3 linked regions of the Homo sapiens genome follow. The protein of the gene in region 2 interacts with the protein of the main gene of each other region in a biochemical or structural test. Each region holds a gene or a part of one and is shown on either strand. Other genes may lie near its edges.

Region 1 (8,125 bases), on a different chromosome or scaffold from region 2:
TGATCCACCCTTCTCGGCCTCCCAAAGTGCTGGGATTACAGGCATGAGCCACTGTGCCCGGCCAGCCCACATTATTTTCTTTGCCTTGAACACTCTTCCCTAGTTCTTCACAAAACTGGCTCCTTCTTATCCTTTAGATCTCAGCTAAAATATTGCATTGGCTGTTCCATAACTCTACATAAGAGGGAAAAGGGGCAGCAATCTGATTAAAACTGTGAAGAGGGAATTCTTAGGGGATCTGTCTCAAAGCTGCATTTGCATAGCAAACACACTGTCTTTACTTAGATTAAGTATAGACCAATAAAAATGTCAATGTTTTCTAAAATGCTTTTATTCATACTTTATATAAGATTAAGAAAACATCATCTGTCCATAAAAATATAATTTGGAGTACCCTGAGGGAAGTGGCAAGTGTTTCAAAGAGGATGGAGAGGCTGACAGGGACTAGAGAGTTTTTCTTATTTTGGCGATAAGGGTCTATTTGCATCTTTTAAGTAGGGGCATGCTGTGGCCTAACTTAAGTGATTAGATGAAGTGAGACTAAAGACTAAAAGGTCAGTAAAATCATTATTATTATTATGACATTTGTTAAGCATTTAATATGTGACAAATACGTTGTCCCTCAGTATCTGGGAAGGATTGGTTCCAGGACCCTCATGGATACCAAAATACAAAGATGCTCAAGTCTGACATAAAATGGTATAGTATTTGCATATAACCTATGCACATACTCTTATATACATGTTTTGTTTTTTTTTATTTTATTTTACTTTACCTTACCTTACCTTACCTTACCTCACCTCACCTCACCTTACCTTACCTTACCTTACTTTACTTTACTTTACTTTATTTTTTGAGACAGAGTCTCGCTCTGTCGCCCAGGCTGGAGTGCAGTGGCGCGATCTCAGCACACTGCAAACTCCACCTCCTGGGTTTTAAGCAACTCTCTCAGCCTCAGCCTCCCGAGTAGCTGGTATTCTAGGCACCCACCACCACACCTGGCTAATTTTTGTATTTTTAGTAGAGACGGGGTTTCGTCATGTTGGCCAGGTCTTGAACTCCTGACCTCAGGTGATCCACCTGCCTCGGCCTCCCAAAGTGCTTGGATTACAGGCGTGAGCCACCAAGCCCGACCTTTATATACTTTAAATCATCTCTAGATTACTTATAATACCCAATACAATGTGAATGCTATGTAAATAATTATACTGTATATTGTTTTATTGTATTCTTAGTATTGTTTTGGGTTTTTCTTTGTTGCTCTTTCCCAAATATTTTCTTTTATTTGTTTTTAAAAATAGAGATGGAGTCTCACTCTGTTGCTCAGGCTAGTCTTGAACTCCTGGGCTCAAGTGATCCTCCCGCTTTGGCCTCCCAGAGTGCTGGGATTACAGGGTAAACCACCATGCCAGGCCTATTATCCCCATTTTAAAGATGAGAAAACAGCCTGGGCGGGGTGACTCACGCCTGTAATCTCAGCACTTTGGGAGGCCAAGGCGGGTGGATCACTTAAGGCCAGGAATTCGATATCAGCCTGGCCAATGTGGCAAAACCCTGTCTCTACTAAAAATACAAAACAAAAACAACAACAACAACAATTAGCCAGGCGCGGTGGCGCATGCCTGTAATCCCAGCCCCTCAGGAGGCTGAGGCAGAAGAACTGCTTGAACCCGGGAGGCAGAGATTGCAGTGAGCCGAGATCGAGCCACTGCACTCCTGCGTGGGTGACAGAGCAAGACTCCGTCTCTAAATAAATAAATAAGAGGAAACAAAGGCACAGAGAGTTAAGGGACTTACTCAAAAATTATAAACTAGGTCGGGCACAGTGGCTCACGCCTATAATCCTAGCAGTTTGGGAGGCCGAAGCGGGTGGATTGCCTGAGTTCAGGAGTTCGAGACCAGCCTGGGCAACATGGTGAAACCCCGTCTCTATTAAGATACAAAAAATTAGCTGGGTGTGGTGGCGTATGCCTGTAGTCCCAGCTACTTGGGAAGCTGAGGCAGGAGAATTGCTTGAACCCGGGAGGTGGAGGTTGCAGTGGGCCAAGATCACGCCACTGCACTCCAGCCTGGGTGACAGAGCGAGACTCCGTCTCCCCCAACCCCCCCAAAAAATTATAAAACTAGTAAGTGACAGAGCTAAGATTCAATCCCAGAGTCCAGCTTTAAAACTCAGGTTCTTCATCATGAAATGTATTTATTCGTTCATTCTTCATATTTCATGAGTATGAAAATGCTATAATGCTCCCCCTTTCTATAAGATTACTGCAATACCACAGGCTTCAAATTGCAAAGGTCTGAACTAATACAATGGCAAACATGATGGAGAAAGGTAAGGAGATATTTGAAAGAGACTCAGGGAAGTAAAACTGATAATGTGGGCAAACAGCTGTGGAGCATAAGGGGGAGGGGAATCTAAGATGACTCTCAGACTTCTGATTTTACTAACTGGGTAGTTGATGGGCCAATCATACAAATGGGAAATTCAGGAAAGGAACTCTGGTGGAAAAGATAGAAATTATTGGTCATTTTATGTTTGATGTGCTTGTGGGGCAAAAAGAATAGCCAGGAGGCAATCAGATATACCAGTCTGGAGCTCAAGAAAGAGATTAGGGCTAGAGATATAAATTTTGTTCTCATACAGCTGTTAAAGGCAATTTCACTTAGGAAGAGTATCTGTAATAAATAAAGAGGGCTTAGAGCAGAATTCTCGGAAACATCATCATTTAGGGAGTAAGCATATTAAAAGTATATTAAAAGCATCCAGCAGAGAAGACTGAGGAAGATGGTCATAGGGCTGATACCAGGAGAGAATGGTGTCATGAAATCTCAGGATGGAGTTTCAACAATGACAAAATTGTCTTTAATCCCACTAGAAAGTAAGCTCTAGGAAGCAATGGGACATATCTGCTTTGTTCACCAATGTATTCCCAATGCCTAGAGGCTTGGCACATACTAGATGGCCAAAAATATTTCATGAATAAGAAAACAAATCGGCTGGGTGCGGTGGCTCACGCCCATAATCCCAGCACTTTGGGAGGCCATGGTGGGAGGATCACCTGAGGCCAGGAGTTCGAGACCAGCCTGGCCAACATGGCGAAACTCCATCTCTGCTAAAAATACAAAAATTAGGCTGGGCGCGGTGGCTCACGCCTGTAATCCCAGCACTTTGGGAGGCCGAGGAGGGCGGATCACGAGGTCAGGAGATCGAGACCATCCTGGCTAACACGGTGAAACCCCATCTCTACTAAAAATACAAAAAATTAGCCGGGCATGGTGGCATGTGCCTGTAGTCCAGCTACTCGGGAGGCTGAGGCAGGAGAATCACTTGAAACAGGGAGGCAGAGGTTGCAGTGAGCTGAGATTGTGCCACTGCACTCCAGCCTGGGTGACAGAGCGAGACTCCGTCTCAAAAAAAAAAAAAAAACAAAAATTAGCCAGGCGTGGTGGCGCATGCCTGTAATCCCAGCTACACGGGAGGCTGAGGCAGGAGAATCACTTGAACCCAGGAGGCGGAGGTTACAGTGAGCCAAGATCGCGCCACTGCACTCCAGCCTTGGCAACAAGAGCGAAACTCCGTCTCAAAAAAAAGAAAAGAAAAGAAAAGAAAAGAAAAGAAAAGAAATCAACAGTTACTAAATGCCACACAAAGTTCTGGGAAGCCAAAGACTGAGAGGTATCCGTTTTATTTAGCAACTTTGGGTGTCGCTGATCTTGTCCAGAGCAATTTCTGTGGAATAATGGGGCAAAAGCAAAATGGGAATGGATTACAAGAATGAAAAGAACGGGCCGGGCGCCGTGGCTCACGCCTGTAATCCTAGCACTTTGGGAGGCCGAGACGGGTGGATCATGAGGTCACGAGATCGAGACCATCCTGGCTAACACGGTGAAACCCCGTCTCTACTTAAAAAAAAAAAAAAAATTAGCCGGGTGTGGTGGCAGGCGCCTGTAGTCCCAGCTACTCAGGAAGCTGAGGCAGGTGAATGGTGTGAACCCGGGAGGCGGAGCTTGCAGTGAGCTGAGATCGCACCACTGCATTCCAGCGTGGGCGACGGAGTGAGACTCCGTCTCAAAAAAAAAAAATGAAAAGAATGTTCTTGTCTATTATTTTTCTACAATCATTAATTAATATATATATATATTAGGCCGGGCCCGGTGGCTCACACCTGTAATCTCAGCACTTTGGGAGGCCGAGGCGGGCAGATCACTTGAGGCCAGGAATTCTAGACCAGCCTGGCCAACGTGGCAAAACCCCGTCTCTACTAAAAATGCAAATATTAGCCGAGCATGGTGGCGGGTGCCTGTAATCCTAGCGACTCGGGAGGCTGAGGCAGGAGAATCGCTTGAACCCGGGAGGTGGAGGTTGCAGTGAGCTGAGATCACGCCATTGCACTCCAGCCTGAACGACACAGCAAGGCTCTGTCTCAAAAATAAATAAATAAAATTCTTAAAAGTTGATGGGAGAAAAAAAGTTGTTTAAAAAAATTTTTTTAAGTTGATGGGAGGTGAGGAAGCGTAGTTACTGATGGCCCCTTCTTGGATAAAAAAAATCTTTTGACTCAGGAAATGAAGAACAAAGCTGCAATTACAAGGGATCAAAGGCGATTTTTCCTTAAATGGAAGGAAACTTGTTATGTTCACCATCGGATCTCCGGGGCCCGGCACAATCTGGCCACTTAATAGGCATTCAATAAACCCCCGAGCTGGCTTGTGGTCGGCTTGCAGGACGCCGTCGCACAAGGACGGGCGCTGTAGTCTTTCCTTCTGGATTCTGCAGTGACGAATGAAGGCGCGGGCTCAGCCCCTGAGAGCGCAGCACCGTCGCCCTAAGCTAACCCACCTTGGGCCACGTGGAAACCAGGGGCCAGGAGGACAGACACCCGCGCGCCAGAGAAATACGGGGTGGGTGGAGAAAGGAATGCCCCACCCGCTGACAGCCGTTTCATCTCAGGCCTCCCAGTTTTCTGCAGGCCCCTCCCTACACGGCTCCTGCTTCTCTCACGCCTCGTACGGAACGGAAGTGACGTGTACGTCGCGAGCGATTGACGGAAACAGAAATTGCTTTGCGGCCCGCACGGAAATTGCTTTCCTTCGGCTTCCGTTCTTGGTCCATGTGAGAGAAGCTGGCTGCTGAAATGACTGCGAACCGGCTTGCAGAGAGGTGAAGGGCAACGAGGGGAGGGGGGATTCTGGGTCTCGTTGGGGGCCGGGTTCCCCAGCTTTTGGGAAATGGGAGCCCCCCCTTTAACAGATGGCAGTGGTTCCCCTGAAGAGCTGGCCATTCGTTCCTATTTTCCGCGATCCAGCCTTTAAAGCCCTTTTAATTTAATTTCATTCGCTTACTCCGCTCCTCAGCTGTATAGCCGCATCCCTGTTGGTCCTGATGCTGTTTCTGCCTCCCCAGCTCATTTACTGTGTTTCACATTTTTCGTCACGTGGCCCCTTTTTCTGCCTCTGTCGCGGCCCGATTTAATCCTCTGCGCAGGCAGTGCAGGCGTTATAAACTCCCCGAATCTTGGAAAGCTTTGCTGATTGGAGTCATCCACCACGTTTTGGCTCCTGTGATGTTTTGTGCCCCCCCCACCCCGCCCCCGGAACTAAATGTAGTCCGTTTAGTAATGTTGGCTTTGCAAATACTAATAATATATGCTGTTAGGTAATGGTACATTTTATAATTTGTTTGTGGGTACCAATCTCCTTAGTTAAGCACCTACTTTACTAAGCAAGCCCCAGGGAAAGTGGCTTACCCAGCTGCTTTCGACCTGTTTCTCCATTCCTGGGAACAAGGATCAAGATAACACTTTTGATTAGGCTGCCTATCAATGAGTCAAATATATGGAGGATGCTTAGAAATATTAATCGTGAAACTGCCTTGCCTCCAGGGCTAGCTAGCAACAGCGTCTTTGGCCATATTATTCTAGGGTCTGACATTTTTACAGCTTCCCATAGGTCATAGGAAATGTTGTGCCAATCCCTGAAAAGTGATAGCTCTTTTACATGCAGTTTTGAAGTCAGGCATCACTCTTGGAGGTGATGCCTGACTTCAGTCTAAATTTCACATCTTGACAAGTTTCCAAAGGCATTCACGCTGCTTTATATATCTTCTGAGGGATAGGGCTATTCTGTGCTGAAATTACAATGTTTTCGAGATTGTTTTAATAGATTAGACATTGCTTCAAATAATAATATTTCTTTTTTTAATTTCGACTTTTATTATAATTAAGGGATACATATGCAGGTTTGTTACATGGGTATATTGCATTCACATTTCTCTGTTGCCTCTTTTAACAGCCTTCTGGCTTTGAGCCAACAGGAAGAACTAGCGGATTTGCCAAAAGACTACCTCTTGAGTGAGAGTGAAGATGAGGTGGGTGACAATTGCTAAACTGCCTTCAAAATTAGGGTAGAGAGCACATTCCTGGAATGGAAGGGTGTGACAATGTTCTATGTATTTGTTCAGGTCTCTCAAATAAATTGCAAATGGTTAGTGTTTCATATATAAGATACTGTATCATATTAAGTGCTATGAGGATTTGGAAACTAAGTTACAATCACTACCCTCAAGTTGCATAAGTATAATTTATAAGACCAACCAAAACAGGCCCGGGTGATGGCTCATGCCTGTAATCCCAGCACTTTGGGAGGCCAAGGCGGGCAGATCACAAGGTCAGGAGATTGAGACCATCCTGGCTAACACAGTGAAACCCCGTCTCTACTAAAAATACAAAAAATTAGCCAGGCGTGGTGGCAGGCGCCTGTAGTCCCAGCTACTTGGGAGGCTGAGGCAGGAGAATGGCATGAACCTGGGAGGCGGAGCTTGCAGTGAGCCAAGATAACACCACTGCACTCCATCCTGGGCAACAGAGCGAGACGCCGTCTCAAAAATAAATAAATAAATAACAAGAGATTTTACATGAGACTCAATTTCCATGTTGTCTTTTCCCTCCCCCTCATCCTGATTGTTTTTCCTTTTCTGTGTCTTAGGGGGACAATGATGGAGAGAGAAAGCATCAAAAGCTTCTGGAAGCAATCAGTTCCCTTGATGGAAAGAATAGGTAACGTTCCCGTCAGTTAGGGCAGGTTATATAGTCAATTCCGTGAGATTTCTCTGCAGCTAATATTTATTGAGTGCTTCATGTAAAGACCTTAATACCAGTGCCTAGCATATAGTAAGCATTATATAATTAACTGTTAGCTGTTATTAGTCTTAGTGCTATTATTGTAAGCATTTGCAGTCTTATTCCACACTGAAAATCTTTTAAAGCATTGAGTAGGCATTATTTAACCCCATTAGAGAAATAAATTTACTTACCCCCAAGGTCACCTGGCTCATAAGTTACAGGTTCAGGTGTGTTTGAATCTAAGTCCAATATGTTTTCCACTATGCTTACCTTGTAATAAAGAGAAGAGATGAGGGTTAGACAACCAAGTCCAAGTTAGGAACAGATCTCCTTGCTGCATCATGACAAAACATGACCCTAGAAGAAATACAAGAAACCAAAGCCCTGTTTGAAGAGAGAAGTGTTTGTCTCTCCCAACCCCAAGCCCCCATAAAATTTATTCATTCCTATTATATCGTTTTGCCTAATTTCAGGCGGAAATTGGCTGAGAGGTCTGAGGCTAGTCTGAAGGTGTCAGAGTTCAATGTCAGTTCTGAAGGTAAGTTGAACAAAGGAAGATACCCATGCATGAAACCTGTGGAGTTCCAAGGGCATTGTGTTCACCTCACCCCCCCTAGGAACTGTTTTTGATGTGGTTAATGACTCATACCATAAATACCTGGGAGAGTGGGTGAAGAAGTGTAGTCAGATGCCCTTCAGTTTCTTCCATCTCTCAAAGAAAGCCTAGAAGGCTGTGGTCAAGGTATCCTACAGAGTTTGATGAGATACTTATAGGATAGATGGACATGAATAAAGACAGCTGCCTCTTAGTAACTTAGTCATAATTCATATTTGTACAATTTCATTTTTATTTCAGTTCTCTTAACAATGCTTTGAGTTAGGAGACAGGCAAATATTCTCTTCAGCCAGAGCTCAGAGAGGTCACATTACTTATTCAAGGGCCTTTGCCTAGTACAGTATTTCTCAACCTTTGCTTTTTTATTGCTCCCCTGAGAGGAGCCTTT
Region 2 (6,903 bases):
CAGGGCTTCCAGCAACAAAGGAGGACCTCTCTCACTTCCGGGTCAGCAAGAGCTTCAGGGCTGGGCCCACTCCGCGTCTCCTCCCTGCAGAAGGACCCTCTGCTCTCCGCCCCCAGAGCAAGGCAGTGGGCTGCCTGGGTGTGGAGCAGCTGGGTAGGGTGAGGGCAACGGGTGGGGTAGGGGGGGTGCAGCCCACAGGCGAGGAGCAGGCCGGGGGCCTTGCCAGGGCCATCTGTGTCCCTGGTCACTGAGGATGGCAGGGGAGACTGGAAGGGAAACAGACCCCCAGGTGGTGAAGGCCCTGAGCCAGCCCCCACGGCAGCCCCTGCAGGCCTCAGTGCTCCTGGATCCTACCAGGGCCGCAGCAGGAACTGAGGCTGAAGCAAATCAGGGCGGCTGGTGGCACAGCTGGGGCCACACCCAGGCACAATTCCTTCCCAACACAGCCAGCAGACTATCTTGTGGGCACCAGCGCCTGCTCAGGGACGGACTTGGGGCCTCCACAACTGCAGTCCCCACAAACCCTGTGCACGGTCCACCCTGACTGCGTGGGGGCTGGGGCCCCCAGTGGAGGGATGTGGCTTGTTGTCCTGAGGAGAGTGGGGGCAGCTGTCCCAGGGTGTGCCCAGCCCTGTGAATCAGGGAAGCAGCTCATGGGAACGGCCCTGGCAGTGCAGGGGAAGTTCACAGAGCCATTTATTGAGCCCCACAACCGACCAGAGGGAAGGGCGTCCACCAGGCTCAGGCCATGGTCCTTGAGGGGCCGGCGCTCTCTACTTGGCCCACATGTGTCCTGAGGAGTTGTGGCATGCCCGCTGCCCTGGTCAGAGCTGGCCGCCATCTTCCAGCTGCATCTGCCGGGCCAGCGTCTGCCCGATGGCCACCAGGGGGCTGGCTCTGTAGGCCGGACTGGCCAGCAGCTCCTGAAACCGGGTCCTTTCTTCCTCGCTGAAAGAATGGAGACCACAGATCAGCAGGCAGGAACCCCCGGACCCCTCAGCCCCTCAACACCCGGAAACGTCAGACACCGAAATGAATGGCAGAGGCCTGGGGCCACCACGGGACTGAGTACTGGGGCCTCGGAAACTTCCGGCAGGAGGGGAGAGGCTGCCCCGGGCCCTCCTCGTGGCCACGTGCATCCCAGAGCCCTGGCAGCGCCCACTGTGGGGTCTGCCGTTGAGGTGTCACCCAGCCAGCAAGTCTGGGGCTGATGGGGCTGCCGCCAAGGCTGAGAAACGCGGCGGCAACTCCCAAGCCCTGCAGACTCACTCCTTACATGAGAGACGGCTCCCTCCACGGGCAACCAAAATAGGTGCACACAGAGGAGAGCCGAGAGCCGAGAGCCGAGAGCCTGAGCCGGCAGAGGCCTGCAGCAGAGTGGGGCGCGGCAGCCCCAGATGGGTGCCACGGCGACGACCCAGCATGGCACCAGCTCACCCCAGCCGCCACCCAGCCCGGCGGCCACTCAGCTCCTGCTCTAAACCCCGCGCAGCCAGCCGCACGCCAGAGAGCTGCCCTGTGGAACACAAAAGGTGGCCTGGGTCCCCTCTCAGGCACAGAAGCCTCGGGGGCAGCTCCCAGACGGGCTCTGCCGCAGCTGCCAAGAGGCCCTGAGCCTGGTGGCGGGGAGGTGGGGCCTGTACCCCTCCGGCCTGTGTGCCCCGTGTGCACGGAGCCTTGTGCAAGGCTGGACCACACTGGCCCTGGTTTCCTGGGCAGTTGACAAGGCTCTTTCACACCCCGCTGGACGACCGCCTGGGCGGGGTGCCCACACACCAGAGCCACAGAGGACAGTGGGGCTGGGGCCGTCTCCACAGCAGGAGGCGGTCAGGGCTCTGCTGGTCACTAACCACCACCTCCTCCTGCCACTGCCACCCTGGCCCCAGCATGGCAGCTGGGGCTGTCCCCGTAAAGTCAGGGTGAAATGCCCCAGTCACAGCCTGGACATTACTAGTGATCTCTGGGGCTACCAGGACCCAACAAGGCCCCACCTGGGGCAACTGAGGAGCCGAGGCCAGGGGAAGGCCCAGGCCAGGTTCTTAGCACTGTGGTCCACTGGGCAGAGTCCTGGGTCAGAGCTGGGGAAGGAAAGGAGCCGTGACAGTGACGCTTGGAAGCGAAGCTGCACGGGGAGGGGCTGCAGGGGGAGCCTGTGCCTGCGCCTGAGTTTAGACACTATGGGACACGGGTTCGGTGCCCCTGGCACTGTGTGGCTCCCATGCTGGGCCAGGCCTCCAGATGCCATCCTGGACAACCGTAAACAGAGACCCATAGACGGGGCCTCCCACCTGAGAGAAAAGCCCTTCCTTGGTTTCGTACTCAGGGGAGCAGCCTTGGGGCACGGACCACCAGCTCCAGGAGCTACAAGGCTCATGCCCAACATGAAGCCCCCAGGGGAGCATGACCCAGGGAGGGGAACACTCTTGCTTCCCACTGGGATCTTGGGATCGAAGGATCCAAGCCACTCAAACACCTGAGCCCTGTCCACAGGCGCCAGAAAGCACCATGGACATGAAAGGGAACAGACCTCTGGCTCCAAAACACGGAGTGAACAAGGAAGGGGCCTCCTGCTCTCCTCTCAGAAGCAGCGAGAAACCAAACTCCATCTTTGATGAAACCAGGAGACCCGTTAACCTGAGCTGCTTCAAAATGCCGCGACCGCAAGGACATGGGGGCACCGAGGGGTGCGGGCGACAGACAGTCTGCAAGAGGAAAACCCGTCGCCCTGTCCAGGCAGGGAGGGGCTCCCCGGACCAGGCTGTGCACTGGGGAGAGGCGGAGAGGGAGGCCAGGCAGGACGATGGCCACACGGAGAGGGCTCTGCTGTTCGCAAACTGTCTCCAGACAAGACTGGCCTGGGAAGAACTCAGTTCATAAACAGAGAAGCAGAAACCAAAGAGGACAAACACAAAGATCTACGGGAAGACCCTGCTCCTCAGGAGGCCGAGGCAGGAGGATCGCTGCAGCCCAGGAGGCGGAGGCTGCAGTGAGCCTTGATCACACCTCTGCACTCCAGCCTGGGCCACAGAGCAAGGAACTGTCTCTAAAAAATAAAAATAAAAACTTTTTAAAAAACTAAAAAAGACAGTTTACTATACTATCTATACTTCACCTAGACCCTACAAAGTGTCTAGAGTAAAAATGGATTAGAGAACATGAGATGGAAGACAGATAGATTAGAGAGATCCAGTAAGTGCATAATTGGTGCCCCTGAAGAAGGGCCGAGACAATAAAGAAATCTTTGGAGCTACCATTCGACACCAGCTTCCCAACATAACTGTACTCACAAAACAGACAGCAGCTTCTAAGCATAATCGAACTCACAAAACAGACTTCAGACTCTCAACTGGAAAGGCACAATGGGCCTCGGTAGAACTGACACAAAACGCTCCCACTGATAAACACCTGAGTAAAGCCATTTCAAACCACAGGAAAAATCATCCCAGCAGCTAACTAAAACCATCTTACAAGGGCGTAAAATGTGGCTCTCTCAGTGGAAACTGGAGCTGAGTCTGCAAAGAGGCAAGAGAGCGTGCGTGGTCTGGAGATTTTTGTACCCAAGAGGACAACTGAGTACAAATTTCTGCAAATCAGTGTCCTAGCCCTGCTAACTGGGGGCCGCAGTGCCCAGTCACAGAACCAAACGTATCATCCAGATTTCAACCAGCCAGCGGAGGGGAGGGGCGGAGATGGGGCTGCGTCCACCCATCATTTTAGATCCATGACTCCCCTTGGAAGCCTTCCTGGGAGGCGGGACTTGACCCAGGGCCACAGGACCTGACTGCACTGAAAAGCCCCCCTGGAGCAGACAGGCAGGAGCCAGCGGAGCAGCGTGGAGGGGACTAGAGGCACGGGCGGGGCTCTCAGCCGCTGAACCCCTGGGAGGGCAGGCTGGAGGCACTCAGGACCCCTGGAGAGGGCGGGGTGGGGGCACACAGGAGCTGAACCCCTGGAGAGGGTGGGCGGGGCGAGGGCACATAGGAGCTGAACCCCTGGAGAGGGTGGGCGGGGTGAGGGCACTCAGGAGCTGAATCCCTGGAGAGGGTGGGCGGGGCGAGGGCACATAGGAGCTGAACCCCTGGAGAGGGTGGGCGGGGTGAGGGCACTCAGGAGCTGAATCCCTGGAGAGGGTGGGCGGGGTGAGGGCACTCAGGAGCTGAACCCCTGGAGAGGGTGGGCGGGGTGAGGGCACATAGGAGCTGAACCCCTGGAGAGGGTGGGCGGGGTGAGGGCACTCAGGAGCTGAACCCCTGGAGAGGGTGGGCGGGGTGAGGGCACATAGGAGCTGAACCCCTGGAGAGGGTGGGCAGGGTGAGGGCACTCAGGAGCTGAACCCCTGAGGAGGTGGGCAGGTGCACTCACAGAAGCTGCTGTCTCTGGGCTGCGCTCATCCGGCTGAGCTCTGAGGGCCGGGGCTTGTTGCTCTCCCTGCTGTGGACACAGAGAAGCCACGTGAGTCAGCATCCAGCATCCCCTAAACACCTTCCCGTGGGCAGAGGCTGGCTCCTCCCTTCTTAGAGCAGACGTCGTGGTGGCCAGAGGTGACCAAACCACTGCAGAACCACAAGTTCCAAGCTGCACTGTGGCCATGGAGGCGAGACCTGGACAAGCAGTGCAACTGCCTGACCGTCCTGTGACCGCCCCGGACAAGCAGTGCAACTGCCTGACCGTCCTGTGACCGCGGGCCCCAAGCTGCTCCGTGTGGAATCTGGTGACTCCTGCAGCTCCTCCTGGCTCCATGGGACATGGAGGGAGTGGTCAGCCAGGAACACGTCTCACGATATACAGCGTCTCCACCCCACCTGCCTGGCCAGGGCAGGCTGCGCAGACACCTCACACTTCGGGCCAAAGGACCCTGGCAGGCACAGCCAGTCCCACTCCCGCAGTACACACCACTTCCCAGGAAGGCTGAGTCACCCACCCAAGCCTACATGTCCCCAGGTCCTCTCTTTAGAAGAAGGCGCACGCTGTGCTACAGTGGGAAGCTGCACCTGCCCTCCTGATGACTGAACTTGGGGACAGGGGCGTGGACCCACCGTAGATCCTGCCCTGCCTGCACCTGCGGGGGGTGCCAACGAGCACTGCAGTCCCCCATGGACAGGTGGAGGAACTGAGGAGGTTTCCTGAGTGCTGCTGGCTATTTCCTTTAGTCCTGGGATCTCCAAACCACCAAGCTGGGCCTTGACTAAGGGCACGGGCGGGCCAGGACACTCTCATCTCTGACGTCCACCCCAGGCAGGCTCCGGCTGCCCGCGGAGCTTCTCACCCTCAGTTAACCGTGGGAATCTTCGGGAGCTCGCCTGCACTCCTTGTGGTCAGCCGGCCAAGGCAGCCGCCCACCTGGCCGAATGTTCACATGGGACAGCGACCTGGGCCTTAAAAGGAACAGAGAACCCGCAAGGCCACACCAGGCGCCTTCTCAGATCTGCCGTCCACACAGTGAGATGGGACCCAGACGACGGCGGGAAGGCAGAGACGCAGAGTCCTCAGACCAGCCCTACACTTAGCCTCGGGCCAGGAGACTTCATCTTTTATTCATGGATCTCTTAAAATATGAATGACAGACATTTTGTGTCTGCCCAAAATAGCCCTCAGCACCCGCTTTCTTTTAACCCTAGCTCTGCGCTGATCTGGGGAAGGAATCAGTCCCCATCCCTTCCTGCTCACACTGGCAGATGACAGCCCCTCGCATCTCCCGTCCCCTCTGCCCGCTCAAAGCCACAGCTCCATTCATTGCAGGGGCTCTGCCGGGGCTGACGACATCTCCCCACGGCCTCTCCTGGGCCAGCCTTGCCCCGATGCAGAAGCTCTGCCCCCCTGGCCAGCCGACCCCCTCCCTGTGTCCACCCCTGAGCAGCAGCTCCCTCACTGACTGCCCAGAGCTGTCCCCGGTCCCCATCCTTGCAGAAGCCATCAGCGTGGGGCCCCTCCTCTAGGTGCACCCTGGTGCCAGGGCTCTGGGCAGCCACGTGCTGGGTCAGGAGACCTGAGCCCGGGTCCAGGACATCCTTCCTGGTTGGGGAAACCTCGGGCCCTGGAGCTGCACCCTCACTTTAAGAGATGAACTAGCAGTGGGGGTGGGACCAATGCCTCCCAAGGTCCCAAAGCAGAGGAGCTGCACCCAGGGTGGCTGCAGTGCCCATGAGGCCAGGCGCGGCACCTCCCCTCCCCACTGCGGGGACCGTCCCCCACCCACGCGTCCCACACCCCATCCTCCCAGGCGGGACGCACAGCCTACCCAGTGGGGTTTCCGGAGTTCAGGGCCCCGGGGACAGAGTGCTGGGCGGTTACCGTCATGGGCCAAGGGCAAGCACCGGCAGGGACGCGACTCCACGAGGCCTAACAGCAGGAAGCCGAGGAGGAATTGGAGCCTAACTCCGCCCAGTGTGGACCCTCACCAGCCCCCACGGCACTCCCTCCAGGCAGGAGCAGCGGCGTCACCACCACTCCCCTCCCGACAATCACCCACAAAGCGCACACAGGAGGCGGAGGTCCACAGCATGGGGGGTCCCCTCCCGACAACTGCCCACAAAGCGCACACAGGAGGTGGAGGTCCAGAGCATGGGGGTCACCGGAGTCAAGTGTCGCTCGATGCCTGCTTCCCAGCCAGGAGTGACGTGGACCCCAAACACGGGCCCTGCCCTGGCCTCTGAGATTCCAGCTCTGCATCCTGCACCCCAGGGGCATGAGGCCCTCAGGGCAGGGCGCCAGGACAGGGGATTGAGGGAGCTGGGTTGGGAGGGGACTGAGGGGACTGAGGGTTGGGAGGGGCCGTGGGGCAAGGACCCAATGCTTGGGTTCCACAAGGACAGCTCTGCCAGCCCAAGCCATATGTTCTCCCCACTAGGTGGGAAGGGGAGAAGTGAGAGACAGAGCTCCAGGCTGGGAGGGAGAGGCTGTCCA
Region 3 (7,458 bases), on a different chromosome or scaffold from region 2:
AATGGAAGAAGGGACGGAGGCTTCAAATGACTGAAATTGTTCAGCTGGTTTCTTGTGACCGACCACTGTAAAGTATTTTTCACCAGAGTCCAAAGGCAAGATAAAAAGTCTCTGACTTGAAATCAGAATCGATCTGCTGATCTGCTAGCCACAGCTCGAATATTGCCATAAACCTTGGAAGGAGGATTTCCTGCAAAGGGGAAAAAAAAGTATATACACAAATAAACTCACATTTATAGCGCCTACAGTTGTCCCTCAGTGTCTAAGGAAGACTGGTTTCAGGACTCCCACAGACACCACAATCCTTGGATGCTCAAGTCTCTTACATAAAAAATATGCACATTAACTACCCACATCCTCCCATATACTTTAAATCATCTCTAGATTACTTATAATACCTAATACAATGCAAATGCTATGTAAATAGTACTGTATTGTGTTTTAAAATTTGTATTATTTTTAATTTGCCATTATTTTTATATATTTTTTTTCTGAGTATTTGATCTGCCATTGGTTCGATCCGCAGATGTGGACCTTGCAGACAGAGGGCAGACTGTACGTGAAAAAGGGTCTAGAACCCTAAAAAGAACAGAGACATTTTAATTGGAAATTACAAAAAAAAAAAAAAAAAAAAAACCTTAACAGAAATAATACCCAAATATTCTCCAAAAAATATTTTAAACTTCTAAGAGCGAAAGGCACTGAGTTGTTAAAATATTTCAAAAAGAAGCCAATCACTGAGGCCTGAGAACCAGAAAATCCCAATTTTCTGAGCAAGCCGCTAAGATCCTGCAACTCTTATCAGAAAGTACTGACTTTGCTGCAGGATCAAGAAAATGGGTTAAGTGGATCAATTAAATTGCCTGAAGCTGTTCAGCAGCTCTTCCTTTGTTAAACCTAAAATGTGATGTTCCCTGCTATTCTGGAATGGTTTTTCTCTGCACCTTATCAAGAAGGCAGCAAAGATTTAAGCAATATTACCCAATAAACACCTTCTCTTCTCTTGCAGACAAATGGAATCTAAGCAAAAGTATTTCTACTTCTGGCTGGGCGTGGTGGCTCACGCCTGTAATCCCAGCACTTTGGGAGGCTGAGGTGGACGGATCACAAGGTCAGGAGTTCGAGACCAGCCTGGCCGATATGGTGAAACCCCGTCTCTACTAAAAATGCAAAAATTAGCCAGGCAAGGTGGCAGGCGTCTTTAGTCTCAGCTACTCATGAGTCTGAGGCAGGAGAATCGCTTGAACTTGGGAGGCAGAGGTTGCAGTGAGCCGAGATCGCACCACTGCACTCCAACCTAGGCGACACAGCGAGACTCTGGCTCAGAAAAAAAAAAAAAAAAAAAAAATTCTACTTCCTTCTCTAGGCCCACCTTTGCCAACTCCCAAGGGTTTCTACTTGCGATCTTTAATATTACCCTAAATTGCTTTGCAAATGTGGTTTTGACTTCCTCAATTAACTTCCTATCCCTCCCAGAGAAAACACCAAAGAAAGAAACTGCTATTACCCAAGATTAGGTTGCAAATGGCAGTTCTTGCCATCTTGATATTTTGGAAGGAGCCAAGGATGTGAACTTTCCTGAAAGAAATAAAATGAGACAAATTAGTGGCTGGGATGCAATGACTCACACCTGTAATCCCAGCACTTTGGAAGGCCAAGGCAGGTAGATCATTTGTGGCCAGGAGTCTGAGACAAGCCTGGACAGCATAATGAGACGCCATCTCTACAAAAAAATTCAACAGTTAGCTGGGTGTAGTAGCACGTGCCTGTAGAGTGCAACATGCCAACCTGAGTGACAGACCAAAACCCTCTCTCTTAAAAAAAAAAAAAAAAAAAAAAAAGACATTGTAGACAAAAAAGCATTTCCTTACCTAAGTCCTGTACTCCAAAAATGCTGGAAAATCATGATATTTGAGTCAGATTCTTTAATGAGGGCAGTGGTTATGGCTGCACAACTCCATGAATATACTAAAAACCACTTTTTAAAAGGGTGAATTTTATGGTATATGAATTGTATCCCAATAAAAAATTATTAGAAAAGACAAAGAATTGTTTGAAAAAGAAAAATTTGTGAAGATTCTTGGTTAATGATGGCTCCCATCCTATGAGTGCTTTATGTGCCAGGGCTTTCTATGCATGCCCTCATTAATCCTCACATGACCTTCCTGTTTTACGGATGAGGAGAGAAGTTTATAAGAAATCAAAAAGCCTGCCCAAGACGACACACTGGCAGAGCTGGTTACTGAATACCCATAAATGCAATACTGTACTCAATTTCAACATAATTGGTTTTCAACTGCAAAGTTTCCTAAAGATTATCTAAATTTCTTCAGGGCTCTGAGGATCATTTAGACCCTTTTAATGGGCATTCTTTACTGAATGACAAAACTGACAAGATACAATTTTGCCTTTTTGAGTCCATCTTCCAAACTGTTTTCACTGTGCCCTGTACAAATCAGCTAAAGCTTCTATATCTTCAACCCCTGTTAATATTCCCTTCACCTTCTGGCTTCAACTAAGGCCAGATCTCAAATGGTGGCCAGTTCTTCCTCCACAAACCAGGTACCTCTGGGCCTGGGGGAGGAGCAGGTGTCTTCATGCCACATCCAGACCACATGCTCTCCCTCTTGCCTCCCTAAAAACCCTTTGGCTTTGGATCTGCTCTGAGGCCACATCACCCACCACCCTGCCTGGCTGCGGTCCTCAGCTGCCCCTACAGATCACCTGTGAAGATGTTAGCTCTTGGCTTGCTTTCTCTTGCTATTCCCCATCACCATGCTCGATCATGTCAATACCCATGAAGATGATAATCCCAACATGCCAGCCTCTCAGGTCCTTGATATCCTTTATGCCAACATGGGGTCTTGTTTTCCACCCTACTCCAGCCTCTTCCATCCATGGTCACACCCTGGACTTGGTCATTACCAAAAACTGCAACCCCCCCATAATTTCGATTTCAAACATCCAACTCTCCCTTCACCACTTTCTGTCATTCCACTCATATCAACACAAATAATCCTTCACCCCTACCCCAGGACCTCCCATCTATGGATCCTACTCACCTTCACTGCCCTTCGCCCCCTCACATCCCACCTCCCTTCCTCTGCTCACAATCATCCAATGACTTCCTATTCACTCCGAGTAAAAGCCAAAGTCCTTATGATGACCTCAGTGAGGCCCTATTATTTTTGACTCATCTGTCACTCTCCGCTCTCTCCCTTTCATCCTTGGTCAAGCCTCCTCGCTCACTGCCAGATGTGCCCTCAACTCAAGATCTTTGTGCTTTCCCCTTCCTCTGTAATGCTCTTCCTCCAGACACCTGCAGATGAACAAAACAAACATTTACAAATGCTCCTTCCTCAAACTCCACTAAAATGACAGGAAAGATGTAAGCCCAAAAGGAAGAAGAGAGTAATAACAGTAGCAAAGTCCAAAAAGGTGGAAAGCAGATGGAGGAGATGGAACTGACTGTGCAGACCGAAGTCAACTGATGCCTAAATCAGCAGCAGGAATATCAAGAAGCAGAACTCTGGGAAAGAGACTCCAAGAGGCAGGGGACAGGGAACCCAGGATGATGGCTGTGCAGCCAGAATGCACGCAGAAAGCATGGGGGCGTTTTTGGAACAGAACATCTCCAGGAGAGATTTCTCAAATATTAGATGCATTCGAATACATCAAGAGGAGATACAGACAACGTATAGCTTCTTACTGAATTAGTACGACGAAAATGAAGAAAGGACATAGACACATAAGAGTTACTTCCTCAAGTGAAAACAATGCTGCAAAAGAAAGATAAGGCAGTCACAGTATTTCACCTGGCTCAGCTATAAGTACACTGAGCACTGATTTCTGTTTTCAGGTAATACTGAACACGAATCTAACAAAAACCACAAGGGGACCATCAGGAGGACAGAGAAGAATAAATCGGAGTGACAGAAAGGCTGAGTGTGTGCAGTGGAAGTAAGGGGGTGAAAGACAGCTAAATCTTCATCTTTGATGGTAGAAAGTCAATAGTGAATCTGAAAAATAAGAGGCTGTATATGAACAAAATATCTGGAAATACAGAGACAAATAATTTTTTAAGATAAGCTAAAAGAGTTGAAATTGGTTCCCCTGAAAAGGGTGAAATGGAGGTAGGCAGTAGAAATTTTTGGCTTTTTTTTTTTTTTTTTTTTTTGAGACGGAGTCTTGCTCTGTCCCCCAGGCTGGAGTGCAGTGGCGCAATCTCGGCTCACTGCAAGCTCCGCCTCTCGGATTCTCGCCATTCTCCTGCCTCAGCCTCCCAAGTAACTGGGACTACAGGTGCCCACCACCACGCCCGACTAATTTTTTTGTATTTTTAGTAGAGACGGGGTTTCACCGTGTTAGCCAGGATGGTCTCGATCTCCTGACATTGTGATCCGCCCGCCTCGGCCTCCCAAAGTGCTGGGATTACAGGTGTGAGCCATCACGCCCGGCCAATATTTGGCTTTTTAAAACTATGTGTATGTTTAACTTTGATTAAAATTATTTAAAACAGAGCATGACAGATGAGGAAATAAAGACAACAAGAACAGATGGGAGTAGTTTTGCTGCACAAAGAACCAAAGTAATGGGGCAATAGTTGGAAAGGAATGGAGGCTTCAAGACACAGAGGCAACATCATTTCCCATCTGCTGTATTAAACATACCTGGAACCAATTGTTTTTAGTTTTCTATCTGGCTCACATTATACTTACTGTATTTTGCCAGGTTATTGGCAACTCATCAAAAATAACTTTTATAGGTACACAACAGCCCATCTAACAGCTTTATTATAATTAATATAAACTGTTAAACGTGGATTTCCAACTAGCCTGTCTACAGCAAAAGCAAGAGATAGTACATCTCTTAATTTCAAGTAGTCTGTAATTCAGTTTGTAAGAAAACACAAAAGATATAAGTAATTCAGTAGCAACATTATTCTCATAGCCACAAACTGAAAACAACCCAAAAGTCCATCTACTGTGACTGGATAAACAAGATGTAATACAGCTGACTTTTGAATAATAGGTTTGAACTGCACAGGTCCAGTTACACACAAATTTTTTTCAACACATATACTGGAAGATATTTTGGAGATGTGAAAAAACCCAGAGAGGAGCTAAGTATCGTAGAAATGTCAAAAAAATTAAGAAAAAGCTACGTCATGAATGCATAAACTGTATGTAGGTACTAGTCTATCTTATTTACTACCGTAAAATATACACAAATCTATTATAAAAAGTTAAAATTAAAACTTACGCACACAAACACAAGCCATATATGATGCCATTTGTAGTCAAGAGAAATGGAAACAAATGCAAAGATGCAGTATTAAATCATAACTCCATAAAATTAACTGTAGTGCATACTGTACGACAACTTCACAGCCACCACCTATTGCTCTTGTGGTGAGCTCAGGTGTTGCAAGTATCCACTTAGAATGCCATGTGATGCTGATCACATGTGATGCTGATTATCTCCCATAAGCAGTTTTGACTCTCCAATAAACTGTCTATCACAGTAGAAAGTGATTTCTCGCAGTTCTTGCCTATTTTTAATCTTAGTGCAATATTGTAAGCTTTGGGACCATAGGACCCACCCAACGTGGGTCCCACATAAAGTGCCACTAGTGATGTTGGGAGTGCTCCAAAGCAGCACAGAAAAGTCATGACAGTACAAGAAAAAGCTGAACTGGCCAGGCGCAGTGGCTCACACCTGTAATCCCAGCACTTTGGGAGCCCGAGGCGGGTGGACTGCGAGGTCACGAGATTGAGACCATCCTGCCTAACACGGTGAAACCCCATCTCTACTAAAAATACAAAAAAATTAGCTGGGCATGGTGGCAAATGCCTATAGTTGCAGCTACTCAGGAGGCTGAGGCAGGAGAATCCATTGAACCCGGGAGGTGGAGGTTGCAGTGAGCCGAGATTGCACCACTGCACTTCAGCCTTGGCGATAGAGGGAGACTCCATCTCAAAAAAAAAAAAAAAAAAAAAAAAAGAAAAAAGCTGAATTGCTTGATAGGTACTGTTGACTGAGGCCTGCAGTTGCAGTTGCCCACCACTTCAAGATAAATGACTATACCATAGGACCATTGTAAAAAAAAGAAAAGGAAATTCATGAAGCTGTCACTGCAGCTATAACAGCAGATATGAATACACCTGCAGTTTTGCCAAATACCCCTTTATCTTATAAAATAAAAATAAAGCCCCTAGGCGCCCAGGCAAGACAGAACAGACTGTGGCAATAAGATATCAAATTGTAAACAAGACCTAAGACCACCTGGGCAAGGGTTAAGTCATACACCCTACACTTAAAGAGTAAATGACATTCTAATTGCCACAGGATATTTTTTTTTCTCTAGCAGCTTAACAAGCACTGGCCTTGTGATAAACAATATTAAAACAATTACAGCTCACCAACAGCTAGATACAGATTGACCCCAGCTTCCCTCTTCCCACACTCTGTTCCACAAACAGTAACTACAGCTTTGATTGGACAAGAGACTGATCCCAGTAACATCTCCTGATAAGAGATCACTGACCATGGACTGGTACTACCAGCTTCCAGAGGCAGTGCATTCAGTTGTCATGTCCCTGTCCCTATTTCATCTTGTAACATACAGGATCTAATTGTCAGGTATTTTAAATGTTAAGTCTCCACCCCAAAGCGACCAGGGGTTGTACATTTACTCGGTATACAAGCATTAGGACCCCTCTTATATTCAGAGCTCCTCCTATAACCTGTTAAATAAGTATACTTGGCCAACGCATTCAGCATAAATTCCTGTCTCATCCTTTCCTCCTTCAGAGTGCCTGCTTTTGGTCTCTGCTGAAGGCTATACTTTCCAGCCTGTCAGAATGGCCACCCTGCAGACTGCAACCCTTTCTAAGAAATAAAGTTTCCTCTCCAAATTTATAGATCTTGTGATTCTTTTCTTGACAATCTCAAATTGGAAATGCAGCTTTTATGTGGGTGCAGGATTGTTCTAAGAAAGACACATCTATAGAGTCTAATATGATGGAGAAAAAAATTAAGTCATTATATGACAACTTACAGCAAAAGGAAAATGAAGGATCTAAAGCTGGAGAACTTAACGCCAGCAAAGGATGCTTCGATAATGTTAGAAAGAGGTGGCTTTAAAAATGTCAGGGTAACAGGAGAAGCAGCTTCTGCTCACCAAAGGGCAGCAGACAAGTTCCCAGATGCCATTAAGAAAATCACTGAGGAGAAATAATATCTGCCTGAACAGGTTTTTTGTGCAGATGAAAAACGTCCTGTTCTGGAAAAAAATGTCACAAAGGGCAATTATTAGTAAAGAAGAGAAGCAAACACCAGGATTTAATGCAGGAAAGGATAGGCTATCTTTACTGTTTTGTGCAAATGCAGTCAGGTTTATGATCAGGACTGCCGTTATCTATAAAGCTGCTAACCCCGATCCTTGAAGGGAAAAGG

The links. The genes of interacting proteins can lie anywhere in the genome.
Region 1: the proteins of SLX9 (region 2) and UTP14A are reported together in a solved structure, tested with the Homo sapiens proteins (one study listed by BioGRID).
Region 3: the proteins of SLX9 (region 2) and PNO1 are reported together in a solved structure, tested with the Homo sapiens proteins (one study listed by BioGRID).

The regions. Positions count from the first base shown.
Region 1 is NC_000023.11:129,901,076-129,909,200, forward strand, and holds the start of UTP14A (U3 small nucleolar RNA-associated protein 14 homolog A), read left to right. Parts: upstream 1-5,088; 5' UTR 5,089-5,135; coding exon 5,136-5,161; intron 5,162-6,188; exon of another isoform or gene 6,189-6,291; coding exon 6,292-6,367; exon of another isoform or gene 6,368-6,984; coding exon 6,985-7,055; exon of another isoform or gene 7,056-7,478; intron 7,479-7,594; coding exon 7,595-7,659; intron 7,660-8,125. UniProt on the Homo sapiens protein: May be required for ribosome biogenesis.
Region 2 is NC_000021.9:44,970,725-44,977,627, reverse strand, and holds the end of SLX9 (ribosome biogenesis protein SLX9 homolog), read right to left. Parts: intron 4,432-6,903; coding exon 4,363-4,431; intron 949-4,362; coding exon 825-948; 3' UTR 655-824; downstream 1-654. UniProt on the Homo sapiens protein: May be involved in ribosome biogenesis.
Region 3 is NC_000002.12:68,167,467-68,174,924, reverse strand, and holds part of PNO1 (RNA-binding protein PNO1), read right to left. Parts: intron 1,579-7,458; coding exon 1,508-1,578; intron 191-1,507; coding exon 123-190; 3' UTR 1-122. UniProt on the Homo sapiens protein: Part of the small subunit (SSU) processome, first precursor of the small eukaryotic ribosomal subunit.